Homo sapiens: one gene and its partners. The protein of the gene in region 3 purifies or fractionates together with the protein of the main gene of each other region. This does not show direct contact. Each region holds a gene or a part of one and is shown on either strand. Other genes may lie near its edges.

Region 1 (4,651 bases), on a different chromosome or scaffold from region 3:
GCACCACCACCCTCAGCTCATTTTTTAAAACTTTTAGAGATGAGGTCTTGCTGTGTTGCCCATGTTCGTCTCAAACTTCAGGCCTCAAGCAGTCCTCCCGCCTCAGTCTTCAAAAATGCTAAGATTATAGGCGTGAGCTACTGTGCCCTGCCTGTTCATTTATATTTATTTGCCAGGTACATTTTTTTTTATATACGATTGTGTTATACTTGGGAGATTGGCTACAGGACTCCCCTGCATATACCAAAATCTGTGCATACTCAGGTTCATCAGTCTGCACTGCAGAACCATCGTATATGGAAAGTAGGCCTTCCATATATGATTTTTGCATCCCGTGAATATTGTATTTTTGATCTGCATTTGGTTGAAAAAAATCCACGTGCAAGTGGACCCACACGGTTCAAACCCATGATGTTCAAGGATTAACTATACTTTAACATTTTGTTTATCCTCTCATATTTATGTTTTTAGTATGTCCCTTGTAAATTGAATACAACTGGACTTCATTTAGTCCAAATATTCTGCCTTTTAGCTGATAAGTTCAGTCTGTTTACATTTATTACCATTACTGACATATTTGTACTTATTTCTACCATCTTATTATGTGTTTTCTGTTTACTCTGCTGTTTTCTCTGCTGCCTTTTTCCTTATGACCTTTCCTTCTGAAAAGTTTGAAAAACTATTCTTTATTCCCTTTTTCCTTCTGATTACCCTTAAATTTTTAACATGCGTCTTTGGCTTTGCACAGAATGTTAAAATCAGTATGTTTGCATTCTTCTGAATAATAAGGGACCTTGGAAAACTTTTAACTCTAGTACCTTCCACTAATCTTAAACGTTTTTGACCAGTGTTTTACTCCCATGGTTTTTTAGTCACCCAGATCAGTCTTTATTATTGGTGTTGTTGCATTTAATTTTTGTACCAACTTCCATTGTTTTCTAATCCTCAGAGACTGTGAACTCCTTAATTAAGCTCGTTTTCTATTTTTCTTCAGATTTTCAAAAGAAACAGCCAGACGATGATTCCGCTCCAAGTACAAGTAACAGCCAATCAGATTTGTTTTCCGAAGAGACCACCAGTGACAACAACAATACCTCGATAACCACGCCAACTCTTAGTCCCAGCCAGCAGCCGCTTCCGACAGAACTGAATGTAACTTCACCGAGTAAAGAGGAGTGTAAGTGTCTGGCTTCTGAGGGGTGGTAGAGAGAGCAGCTTAAGAACTTTAGATGAGCATCTTGGTAATGCCTGACCCCAGAAAAAACAGCACTTCTTTTAATTCAAGATAAGTGTCCACATACAAGGCCCAAGCTCAGCAAGTTAGAGAATAAGTTTCAGCCATTCCTGAAGAAATAGCCTTTTATACCGTCAAAGTACATGAAGTTTGAACCAGTCTAGAGAGCAGTGGCTCTCACCTATGTCTGCACATTAGAATCCACTGGGGGTTTTTAAAACAATTTTAATCTTTAGCACCATTCCCTCGTTCTCATTTAATTGATCTGGAGGGAGGCCCAGGGATCTGTTATTTTTAACTCCGCAGAGGATTTCTAATATGCAGCAAGGGACCAGTAAGGGATTCTAACCCTAAAACCCTAATTTAGGAGCCTTAGATTGAAGCTTTACCTCTGTCACTAACTGGGCCTTGACTGTTTCTAAGCATTTAACTGAGATAGCACTATACTTCATAGAACATAGGATGTTTAAAGGAAGGAGGAGATGGTATTACTCTTCTGTAAGTCTTCAGTGTTGGAATGCTATTATGTAGGTTAGAAGTTCACTGTCTACTTAATTTCTTTTTTTTTTTTTTAGATACTCACTCTGTTGCCCAGGCTGGAGTGCGGTTGTACCATCTCAGCTGACTGCAACCTCTACCTCCTGGGTTCAAGTGATTCTCCTGCCTCAGCCTCCTGAGTAGCTGGCATTACAGGTGCCTGCCACCATGCCTGGCTAATTAGTAGAAACAGGATCTCACCATGTTGGCCAAGCTGGTCTCGAACTCCTGACCTCAAATGATCTAACCACCTTGGTCTCCCAAAGTACTGGGATTACAGGCATGAGCCACCATGCCCAGCCCATTGTCTGCTTAATTTTTATAATGTCATAATATACATCTCTTTCCCTCCATCCCCCATCCCTGGCGGTATGTGAGATATACATCTCTTTTAGGGCACAAATATAGTTGATAGTATTTGTTGAAAATTATAGGGATATTATGACATAGTAGTTTTTGCCTTTTAAAAGCTCTACTTGGCCAAGCCAGGAGGATTGCTTGAGGCCAGGAATTTGAGACCAGCCTAGACAACATGGTGAGACTCTTGTCTCTACCAAAAAAAAAAAAAAATTAGCCAGGCGTGGTGGTGTGTGTTTATGGTCCCAGCTACTTGGGAAGCTGAGGCAGGAGGATCTCTTGAGCCCAGGAGTTCAGGGTTACAGTGGACTGTGGTCTTAACCATTACACTGCAGCCTTGTGAGACCTGGCCTTTTTTTTCTTTGAAAGCTAAGTTGAAATTTAGTATTTCAAGTTTCATGAATATCTAGAAACACAGTAGGTTAGAATGTTCTGTGTTCTGTATACTAACTTTGGAAAGGTTAGCAGAAAACAAATATTTATCTAAATCTGTCATAAACTGCTATATTTGGTAATATCGAGAATATAAAATAAGCAAGGTCATAGTCTTTGTCCTCAAAGAATTTGAAGGGGAAATTAAATATATTTGTTGTAGTTTATCAGTGGTTATCAACCAAGAGTGATCTCCCACCCCACAGCCCCAGAACATTTGATAATGTCTGGAGACCAGGAATGCTGCTAAATGTCCTGCATCACATAGGACAGTCCTCTGCAACAAAAAATCATTCAGCTCACGATACCAGTAATGATGAGCTTGACAAACCCTGATACATGTTTGCATACACCCATGTTGGTCCTTATGTATTAAAGACAGCAACTGTTGAAGGGCATTGACCTACTGAGGAAGTGGTGGTAAAGATGGATAGAAGGTGGTGAAGAGACATACTAGACAGAGTAGAATGAGCTGTGGAAGGAAAGCTGCATGGAGTTTCTCAATGGCAAATGACTGTCTTAGGGCCATTTGTGGAAGAGAATGAAAGACAAGGCTGGAAGGGTAAGTTGTGGCCAAGACATAGAGGCTAAATGTCCAGCTAAGCTATTTGGACTTGAGACAGTAGCCATGTTTTTGAGCAGAGGAGGTGATATTATTACAGTTCTTTGGAGAAGTAACCTTGGTTGTATTGAAAATGGAAAGGATTAAACAGGAATAACATTGCAAAGAAAGAATTTTTTAAATATTATAACTTATTGAATAGAGGCCAAGGTGTAGAAATCATATAAGAGGAGAAAAAAAAAAACGGTGAAAATGGTAGTGGTCATGCTAAGGCAGTAGATTTTGTTTTGTTTTAAAAAATCTTTTCAAGATCATGTACTTACTGAGGAGTTGATGACAGCTGTGGCCTCTTGTCCTAGAAAAATATACACCATCCATTTATACCCAATTTTGCATAAAATTTCTCTACAGCTTATTATGGCCCTTGGGTTAAGAACTCCTGGTCTAAGGAAAAAGTTGGTCAGGATCTCATCTGATGGAAACTGGATTGGATTCGTGCATACCAGGATCGGGCCACCACAAATCAATTCAAGCCACCAAAATGCATGTGAGGCTGAGATAACAGTAGCTACCATTTATTGAGCACTTTGTATATGAGACATTATTCTACATGCATATTTTCTCATTGTTTTTCGTGATAACCCAATGAGGTAGATAGTGTCATTATACTCATTCCATAGATGAGGAATTAGACACAAAAAGATTAAGTAATTTGCCTGTGGTCACAAACGAGTAGATACCAGAACCAGGATTCAAATTTAGGCATTTGGCTTCAGAGTTCATACTTTTAATCAGTTAATTCACAATGTGAAATACAACTGTCATAGAGAATAATATTTGTGTGGGCAAGAGGAATGCTTTCTCTCCCTGTCATTAAGATATGTGGAAATCCACATCATAACCAAGAGTTACTTGCCAGTTTAGGCCACTGTAGACTGCTATGGGCTTTTTTTTTTTTTTTTTTTTAATATGAATACCTTCAGCCTGATTAAAGATGTCTAGTTCTACTAGCTTCGTTTCCTTTCTCTCTCTTCTTGGTGACATCATTGCTTTGAACCATTGTATGTTTCTCTTAGACTTATACTCTCTGAAGCTAATCTCTTTCCTAATTCCTCAAGTTTCTACAGATCTAGGGAAATGAGATTTGCCAGTTGGAGATATGGTGATGACTTAAGTTTGTATTGTGTGCAACTGGGCAGGTTGAGTTGGAGCTCAGAGGAGTGAAGTCAAGATTGGCTTCATCCACATGGAGATGATAGTTTAAGCCATAGGTGTTAAGTGAGGTTGCCAAGAGTGAGAGCAAAGAAAAGCAGGGAGGGCTGGGCACATGGCTCACGCCTGTAATCCCAGCATTTTGGGAGGCCGATGCGAGCAGATCACAAGGTGAAGAGATCAAGACCATCCTGGCCAACCTGGTGAAACCCCGTCTCTACAAAAATACAAAAATTAGCCGAGCATGGTAGTGCGCACCTGTAGTCCCAGCTACTCGGGAGGCTGAGGCAGGGGAATCGCTTGAACCCGGGAGGTGA
Region 2 (4,651 bases), on a different chromosome or scaffold from region 3:
TTGTCAGTGCTACCTGACAATAATCTTACAGAAATTTAAAATCACATAAATTTCAGAGTCAAAAAAGAAAACCATAAAGATCATATAATCCAAACCCCTTATTTCACAAATGAAAAGGAGGCCCAGAGAGACTCGTCTGGACTATAGAGTTCAGACAGGCAAAGTAATTGTCCATAGTTACACAGCTAGTAAATGTTAGAACTAGAACTCAAATAATCTAACATCCAGTCCAACACTCTTAGATATCACATAATTTCAAACATAATTCTGAGGTGTAGTAAAATTACGAATAGCAACTTATAAACTACAGAAATCTCAGCCAATTTCTCAAGTATACAAATAGATTAGTACAAAGATGATCTTTCTGTAACATTAGTAAGGCAGCAGGAAAAATAAGGTAAGATAATGTACAATTTTTTAGCCTGAACATTTTTTAACTTTACACCTAAGGTAGTGTTATAAAAGCACTGAATAGGTGAAGATAGAAGGCTTAGGAAAAAAATAATACTAACTATCAGAAAATTATCTTTTAAATTAAAGTATGTCTTTTTTTTTTTTTGAGAAAAAAATTGGGCTTTTATTGGCAATTACAAAAGTAATAGATTTTCTTACATAATACGTTCCTTCAGTAATATATTTTTCAAGTATTTTACCATAGAATTTCTAAAGTACTTTGTCATTGACCCCATAATTTATTATAAAGTAGGTCCCATAATCACATTTTTTGGAAGTTGCTGAAATTGAGATAAAAAATATTGTTTTTTTATGAGAAAAACTGGACAAAATACAGAATGGCCAAAACTAGATTAACTGGCTCAGTTATGTCTACTAGGTGAAAGAAAATACAGAATCTGTTACTGTAGAAATTTTAAGAGGTTTTGAGTCAGTTCCAGTATAAAAATAAGGCCAAAGTTCTCCTGTAAAATCATCATTAAAAGTACAGAGAAGAGATCTATCATTCAAATTATAAAAGGAAACCTCATTCATTTCACAGTCTAAAAAAATGCCAATCTTACTAGGTGTTACTTTTGGCAGCAGAATAATTTCCTTATGGCCCAATACAATATAATTATTCCGACTAGATTACCAAATTCTCCATAATCCATCCTGTACTAAAATTGGTTGACTCTTCCTCCTTGTGGGAGGAGAGTCACTACAGACACCAAGAATCCATTCAGGCATGTCTTTAACTTCTACTTCCCGGTACTGCCTGCCACAATTTTATCCCTTAGAACCCAGAACAGCTGGGAGCAGATAAAATCTTCTTGGGTTATGAGGTAAGTTTTGTGTTGTATTTCCATATCGCACAGTTTTTCTATCTTCTGAGACTATAAGTTTACGATGTGCTGCTTCAGGATCTAGAATTACATCTACTTGAAATCGCTTGATAATTTTGTTTTGGCCACAATATTGTGGAGACAGATGGTAACCATATTCTTTTAATTTGAATAAAAAAGGTTTAGGGAATTTTAAATTCTTATGTCTGTGATAGATATCCTTAACATCAGCCAGTAATTCCAGTTCTGACTTCACATATATGCTCTCTATCTTCTTTAGTAGATATTTTAATGAGGAGGTATAATCTGAAAATTTTGTTAGGCTTTCATTTAGTTGTGCTAAAATATCCATCTCGTCATCTTGTAATTGCCCAAAAACAGTCTCTTGCTCATTTTGCAGAAATAACCTAAGTTGCTCAAATTCAGACTTGACTTCTTCTGCCGTATGTTTTACCTTTTTCTTCAGTTCCAGTGATTTTCTGGTTTGTATAGTTATGACTTTTTCAATTAGTTCCACTCTCTCCTTCCACGGTGCATTGTATTGCTCCAGTTTTTTCCTGATAGGAGGCAGCCTTCTTTATGGGCCAAACACAGCGATGCTGGTGATCAGTGGACAAACTGCACCTTGGACATAAAAGCTCTAGGTCTTTCTGAGAGAAGAAAGTCAAAACCTGATTATGCTTCTTACACACATGCTTCTCTTCCTGCCTCTTCCTCTTGCTTCTTAGCTGGAGTTGCTTAGCAATTTCAGTCAAACTACCCAGCTGGGGATTGCTTATAAATTTCCTTTCTGGACAGCACAAGTGGCAAAAGGGGCAGGGGAAACTATCATCTAGATCCTTCCAGGACATAATGATGCAGGAGAGACAGAAGTTATGCCCACAGCTGATGGTCACTGGGTCTTTCAAGTAGTCCAGACAGATGGGACAGCTAGCCTCTGCTCGGAGGTCAGCCAGGGCTGTCACAAATTCTACGGAGCCTGGAACAAAGATGGTAGGTAAGGTAATTCTTTTATTTTAGCAAGGCCTAGCTCTCTAGAGCTCAAGACCCACTATGCAGTGGATTCCTCCCCAGACCTTGAAATCTGACCAGCTTTCAGTTTTACTGACTTGGCATGTTGATGGCAGCTTCTAGAAACTTGTTAAGCCCTCAGCTCCTTAGCTTCAGACTTCACAGCCTGCAGCCTATTGCATATTAGAACTTATTAGCTGGGCTGCTGCTCTTCCCACTAAATGAAATAAAGTCAAGTTTTCTTCAAGAAAGCAGCCTCAGGTCCAAGATAAGGACTCCTTCCTGTAATCCCAGCTACTCAGGAGGCTGAGGCAGGAGAATCGCCTGAACCCAAGAGGAGGAGGTTGTGGTGAGCCAAGATCGCGCTGTCGCACTCCAGCCTGGGCAACAGAGTGAAACTATATAAAGCACATTGGGCCAGGCATGGTGGCTCACACCTGTAATCTCAGCACTTTGGGAGGCCAAAGCAGTGGATCACTTGAGGTCAGCAGTTCGAGAACCAGCCTGGCCAACATGGTAAAACCTCGTCTCTCCTTGCATTATAATCACCTGGAGGGCTTGGTAAAAGGTTGCTTGGGCCACATCCCCAGTTTCTGGTTCAGTAGGGCTGGTTTTTTCCTAAGTTCCCAGATGATGCTGCTGGCCTGCGGACTGTACTTTGTGAACTTATGCTGGAGCAGATGGATCAGAAACCCCGGCCAGAGGATGCTCAGGACCCATCAAGCCCCCGCGAGGAAGGACTCAGACCCCCAACCCCACCAAATTAAAGTATGTCTTTAATAGATAATCATTATTAACAATATTAAAATGTATAGCCGACTTGATTTTTTTAAATATTGTAATCATTATACAATCAAAAGTCAAAGAAAATGCTTCCTCATTTTTATAAGCAAGTCCTTAAAAAATATTAGTTCATTTTACAAGACCAATGAATATAGTAATGCATTAGTACTGGTTGAAGAGGCACGGAGGAAGGTTATGGGGGCAGAGGAGCTGAAGGAGGAGGCGCTGGAAGTGAAGGAGGCAGGGTAACTCTGGTTGAAGCAACATTTCTACTGCTTCTTGGTCCCTTTCTGTGATTAATTTGCCAAAGGAGGGAGCTTACTTTCATACTGGGGTTATCTAACACATTCTATCCATTTCCACAGCATGAGCCTGGTAACAAGGTGATTGTAGATGGAATAAGGCATGAACTCCTTTTGAGATTTTAGTCAAGGCAACAGACAGACATGGAGCTTAGCCCTCTGAACACAGAAATCATGGCCCACAAACATTATCACCTTAGTCTAACTATAAGGTAACAAAGATGAAATACAGTATAACCCTGAAAAATAAGCTTATGCACACAATCTTTGAAAAATAGACAAATATCCAATACATACAATTTCATCAAGCTCCAGACCAAATTCAAAACATAGTTCATCAAATTCTTCGTCAGCTAGGAAAATAAAAAAGGAGATGGTTAATTTCACTCTGTTCAGTATAAGTGAAAACTACATACAAACTGCATTTTCTTATTACTAATTGCCTTACACCAATCATACTACTAAATATCAGGCATCACATATTATCATTTAAAAACAAACAGGCCAGGCATGGTGGCTCATGCCTGTAATCCCAGCACTTTGGGAGGCCAATGTGTGTGGATCATCTGAGGTCAGGAGTTTGAAACCAGCCTGGCCAACACGGTGAAACCCTGTCTCTACTAAAAATACAAAATTAGCCAGGCATGGTGGCGCATGCCTGTAATCCCAGCTACTTGGGAGGCTGAGGCAGGAGAATTGCTTGAACCTGGGAGGCAGAGGTTGCAGTGAGCCGAGATCATGACATTGCACTCCAGCCTGGCTGACAAGAGCGAGACTCCGTCTCAAAAAATTAAAAAAAAAAAAAAAAAAAAAAAAAGCTGGGCCAAAAAAATTTAAGATAAAAAAAAGAAAAAACTATTAAAGGCTTGATTAATCTACACTAATATCAACTGTAGTTTAGGTTACCTGCACTGGGAAGTTTGCATGTACACAGAAGAAAAACACCTGTTCACCTGTTAAGTAGAGATCAGATATAAAGTAGGCTCCAAATCACAGATCTCACACAACAGAATGTCACATAAGTCCTATCAGGTAAAATGGTCTGAGGTGGCCTGACACTTTTGGCTTTGAAGCCAAGTCAATCAGAGTTTGAATTCTATCCCACTTATTAGATCTGAGAGTTTGGCACCTTATGTAAACTTTCTTGGTATCTTGTGTCAACATTACAGCTGCCTCATCTATAAAATGGTATTTCACAGCCATTATGGCATGGTACTATTGGAAAGATTTAAATGCTAATGCATAAAATGGACCTGGCATAGTACCCTGAGACACAGT
Region 3 (5,259 bases):
TGTCTTCAGCTATGCTGGCTATACATGAAACAGATTAAAACATTTCTAATATTAATATAGCGTTTGTATTTAATTCACTAAATTCCATTACCTAATACTTTTATCCTTCCTTTGTTTTACAAGTACTTTATTTTATCCATTTATTGCTTTTTGTAACAAAGTCAATTCTCAGTGAGGAAAAGAAATATTTTAAACTCAAAATTACTTAAAGTAACAAATCCTGTAAGAAATTTAGATGACATTTAACGATTGTGTTCAGCCCACCTACAGTCTTTTCAATACCTTCTCCTTGTCCAAAATACTGTGTGTAAAGTTAGTTAACAAATGCTGGATGCCAACAATTCACTAGTGGTCTAATGCTGACCATATGTGATAGGGAGCTTAAGACTTAAGGATAAGACAATGAAGAAGGAAGTCTGTAATATCACAAAATATAGCCACATAGCAGCATAAAAACTACAAAGCAGAACTATGATTTTATACAGGGGAAAGTATATGAAAAATTAAAAGGACTTCATCATACTTTTTAAGCATGCTTTATTTTCTTCTCTGATTTTGAATATAAAGAGAGACCATTCATTCACTTACTTATTAACTCTGTGGGAGGTATTAAGGAGATACGTTTTTATTCACACACACATAGCCACAAACTTAAATTCAATATAAAACACTGTAAAATGTAAAAAGGGACAAACTTGAAAGACAACTGAGATTATTCCCTGGTGAAAGCTGTTAGCAAGCATGGAAAAAAGCATGGAAGATCAGGCTGCACAACCATGGGGAGGGCAGGATGAGGCAATCTGAGATAAAGACCACAGGACACGGTAAAATGATCACATTTTCCAAATAAAAAGCCCCTTTCCCAATTCAAAGAAAATGTATGTTTGTAAAGGACTGTAGTAAATAAAAGCCCTCCTCATGGCTCACCAGTGACGTGTTGGTAACGAGTACGTCCTAGCATTGAATGCATGGCATGTCCCATTTCATGGAAAAGATTTTCCATCATGCTAGGAGTTAGCAAAGTTGGAGAACTCCTTGAGGAACGGGGAAGATTCAGCATAAGAACTACAACTGGGAGTTGATAGTCTCCATCTTCCTTTAGTCTGCCTCCACGGATAGTGAAATGGCAATCCTTTAAGAATCAGAAAACATAAAAGGAAAAGAAAGTATTTGGTAATGTGAAGAGTAAAACAGTCTTAATGAATATAAAATTTCACCAAAAATGTGTGAGTGCAAACTTTAACTTAATTATATTCTTATTCTATCTATTTACATATATACACCTTTTCTTGACATTTTTTATTCTGCTAAAATTTTAATTTTTTAAAACATCAAGAACACATTCAGTTTCTATGGATTAACTCATTACTTTGGTCCCAAAACATGCATTGAAATGATGCTGTGCCAGAAGCTGGAAACAAAGTCAGCAAAGAACTTACGAAGGGACACTAACATTTATTCTGAGTCCCTACTATGTGTCAGATAATGAACTAGTAGGTACTTTCCATGTCTCTTGGCTATTTTTTTTTCTTTTTTTAAGATAGGGTCTTGCTCTGTTGCCCAGGCTGGAGTGCAGTGTTGTGATCGCAGTTCACTGCAGCCTGGACCTCCTGGGCTCAAGCCATCCTCCTGCTTTGGCCTACTGATTGGCTGGGACTACAGGTGTGCTCCACCACACCCAGCTAAATTTTTAGATTTTTTTTTGTACAGATGGAGTCTTACTATGTTGCCAGGGCTGGTCTTGAACTCCTGGACTGAAGTGATCTGCCAGCCTCAGCCTCCTAAAGTTCTGGGATTACAGGCATGAGCCACCGCGCCCAGCCTCTCTTGACTTTTATCACTTGAACGAGATGGGATCTAAACTAGTGTAAAGCAAGGGATCCGGAGCCAGAATAACTTACTCTGAAACAGGCACTACACTGAGACTCACATACACTGTATCACTTATTCTCCACAACAACCCTATGTAGCAGGTATCTCACTTTTCAGATGATAAAACTAAAACTAGTCTTAGGATTATTAAATAACATGTCCAAGGACACCTAGCTAGAACTGCCACACCTTGGATCTGAACCCAGGCTGACTATTAGGAGCCAGGGCTCCTAATCACTAAAGTTGAGTCTCCACCACCCACCCATTTAAGCAAAGAGGAAGAACACTGGCCTCAGAGTCTGGTGACCTGCACCCTGTTCCTACCTTTCACACCTACTAGACAAATCATCTCGGAAAATAATTTGCTTCTGCAAGCCTCATCTCTAAAATGCTTCCTTGTCAAATCCCACAGTGGCTGTCCAGAATTCATAAGCTCACATCTGTTAAAATCTGTGCTTTGGAAATTGTGAATCACTATTCAAACATAAGGTACATTATTTCTGTTATAACTTATAACCTAAACTCTTGACATTTCCCATCAAGCTACATGAAACTGCTAAAGCTGACTGGCTGTCAAAGTCGGCCAATGCTAAAGAAAAGGAGATGAGCTGCCTCAAGTCTTCCACATAAGGAGCTACTTGGTGGTTGGTAAGGTTTCCACATGGAGTATCTTCCGCAGTTTTAGAATAGGTTCATTGTCGAGTATGGAAAAGAGTTAAAAGTTGGGGATCTGCTCAGGATGTATGCCTTCAAGTCCTAGCACTTCTGGCCAAGTAGCTTAACCTCTATGGCTTCAGTTTCCTCATAATGTGAGTAACTAGTCAAAAGGGTGAGGCGAACATTAAAAGGCTGATGTGTATAACGGGCTCAGTGCACTGTTTGGCACAAATAAGGATTCATAAAATGTCAGTTGTCATTGTTACTATAATTAATACCATGACCCAGATAAAAGTGACAAATATAGACTGATGTAATTATTTCCATAAACTTTTTAATTTTAAAATTCTATCTTAATTTCAAATGTATATATTTGGTAACCATCATTAGTAACTTTTAAATGTCATGGAATTTAAAAAATGATACAAAGTTCACATCAATACAAATGAAATGCCGATCGGTTCTAGAGAGACCAGTTTATAAAGAAAGGATCACCTGATGTGGTTTGTCTGCTCGCTGAAAAAAATCACAGTAAATGTACCCCAACAATCCTTCAGATTCATGAACAACAGCCTAGAAAAAAAAATTTAAATTTGGTGGTAAATGAGGCCATCTGATTCTCTAAAATCCCTAACACAAGAATCTGTATATTAAACATCCATAGCCACACATATAGACATTTTAATTACATTCTACACCCCACATTATCTCGAGATAGATTCTCTTTTCCCCGCATCCTCTTCTGCTCCATCTCTTGAATGATTTTGGTTTTGGAATTCTGTGTCCAGGACAGGAAATCCTCCTCATGAGGGCCTTTTGTCCTGACTGCCTATCCTCTACAATACCTTTACTAACCACCCACAAGAGCTGGGAAGAAGTGCTGGCTGGACAATTTTAGGAGCAAATTATTTTTCCTTCAAATCCTGGAATGTCGTGATATACGCCCAAGCAAATTATAACCCTTGAATTTGAAAACACCACAATGCAGCTCCCAGCTTGAGTTAAAAATCAGCAATATTACTATCTATCCCCTCTCCAAGAGACATAGCTTATAGGAGAGACTCAATCACTACTCTCCATCTTGCCTTCTTTGTTCTTTCAGAATTTAATGATTCCATCAAAGAGAACCCCGATTTTGTGCTTTAAAACTACCTGCAAGTATATATTTATTGTTCATCAAACATCTGTTAAGCACCTACTTGGTGCCAGGAACTCTTCAAGACACTGAGGATACAGAAGTGAATGCAACTGACAACAGTGCTGGACCCCGGTGGAGTGCACATTCTGCAGTTCTGGGGAAACCCTTCATCACCCGCATTTTGTCCTCTCAGTCTCCTCTTATAAATTTTTCTTTTTATTATATCTCAGCATTTTATCAATCTCTATCTTTTTTGGAAGTTTGTAATACAGATAGTGAAGTAAATCAATGCAGTGATGAACGTCCTCCCACCCTGACTCTCCTTTCAATCCCACCACCACACCTACTCTCCACTCACAAGACGTGGCCGAGAGACAATGAGACTGTTTACATTTCTTAAAATATAGTGAAGAAAGCAGTGTGGTAAGCATGCTAGCAAAAATCAAACAACAAAACAATACAAAGCCTTAGTGACACACACAGGTCAACAAAGCCTCAAATCCTATGAGGAAAAATTTAAAATATTCATGCCTCATATAAAGTGGGCCTTCACAGGAGAAAGATGATTGCTAGGTTTGAAGTTATTATCAAAGAAGTTAAATAAATCAGAACACGGACGTAAATTAATATCTGATGCAAATATAAGCCCCTACAACATGGGATGGGGGTTGGAGAGAAAAAAGGTCACTTATCCAATGGATTTGGGAATTAACCAAAACGGACACACAGCTATGAAGGTATATACAAAGTAAAGGACAATTTTCCTATAAATAGAATTTGTGGATATATGAAGGTGCATATATATTCAACCTTCTATCAAGTTCCAAAAAACTTTTTTAGAAAACTCTGCTGTTTTATGTTTGGATCCTTTATACAGTGTCTTAAATCAGAAGTGCAATTTGGATTTTTTTTGTGAAGCAGAAATAAGGCAGGGGACACACTCAGTCAGGGCAAAGTTGATGTAAACCTGAAACTGCTGTTGACTCAACTGCCCAACCGAAAGGTAAATGCCTGCAACTGCAGGCTGAGCAGGAGGAGCTCACCAGTTTTCGGACATCTTCGCTCCACACCTCTCCTTTTGCAGGCTGCTCTGCATATAATGAAATCCCCAACAGTCTGTTAAGCAAAATATTCAGGCCTTCCATGCATGCTCCAAGAGAGAAAAACGGGCAATATAGGCTGGGCTCAATATTATACCTAAGAGAAGGAAGAGAGGTTCAACAGCATCTTTGTTTATTTCAATTTCTGAAGGTAAATTCAATTAACTTTTCATTTAATACTTAAGATCACTGGAGCTAAAGAAGGATTCAAAACATAAAAGTGTATTTATATCATTTGAGGGGTTTTCAGACAGTTTTCTTCAGAATGACAGTCTGATTATTACTAGTGTTAGTTATAAGTCAGTAATTAAGGTAGATATATCATTCCCTAACCTTTGTCCCTTCCCTGTTATTTACTCTTTCACTAACCCAATTAAGCAGTCTCAACTGCTCACTGTATACATTCCTTATACATACTTACATGCAAAATATGATCAGTTTCAGTTATAATGGTAACTCTTACCTTATGAATTATATTCTAGAAACTTGTGA

What was found. The genes of interacting proteins can lie anywhere in the genome.
Region 1: the proteins of MIPEP (region 3) and ZFAND3 fractionate together in Homo sapiens (co-fractionation; one large-scale study listed by BioGRID). This does not show direct contact.
Region 2: the proteins of MIPEP (region 3) and FARSB fractionate together in Homo sapiens (co-fractionation; one large-scale study listed by BioGRID). This does not show direct contact.

What each region holds. Positions count from the first base shown.
Region 1 is NC_000006.12:38,060,599-38,065,249, forward strand, and holds part of ZFAND3 (AN1-type zinc finger protein 3), read left to right. Parts: intron 1-994; coding exon 995-1,177; intron 1,178-4,651.
Region 2 is NC_000002.12:222,645,070-222,649,720, forward strand, and holds part of FARSB (phenylalanine--tRNA ligase beta subunit), read right to left. Parts: intron 3,727-4,651; coding exon 3,671-3,726; intron 3,057-3,670; exon of another isoform or gene 2,772-3,056; intron 1,928-2,771; exon of another isoform or gene 1,732-1,927; intron 1,278-1,731; exon of another isoform or gene 553-1,277; intron 1-552.
Region 3 is NC_000013.11:23,836,625-23,841,883, forward strand, and holds part of MIPEP (mitochondrial intermediate peptidase), read right to left. Parts: intron 4,865-5,259; coding exon 4,711-4,864; intron 3,103-4,710; coding exon 3,025-3,102; intron 1,133-3,024; coding exon 928-1,132; intron 1-927. UniProt on the Homo sapiens protein: Cleaves proteins, imported into the mitochondrion, to their mature size.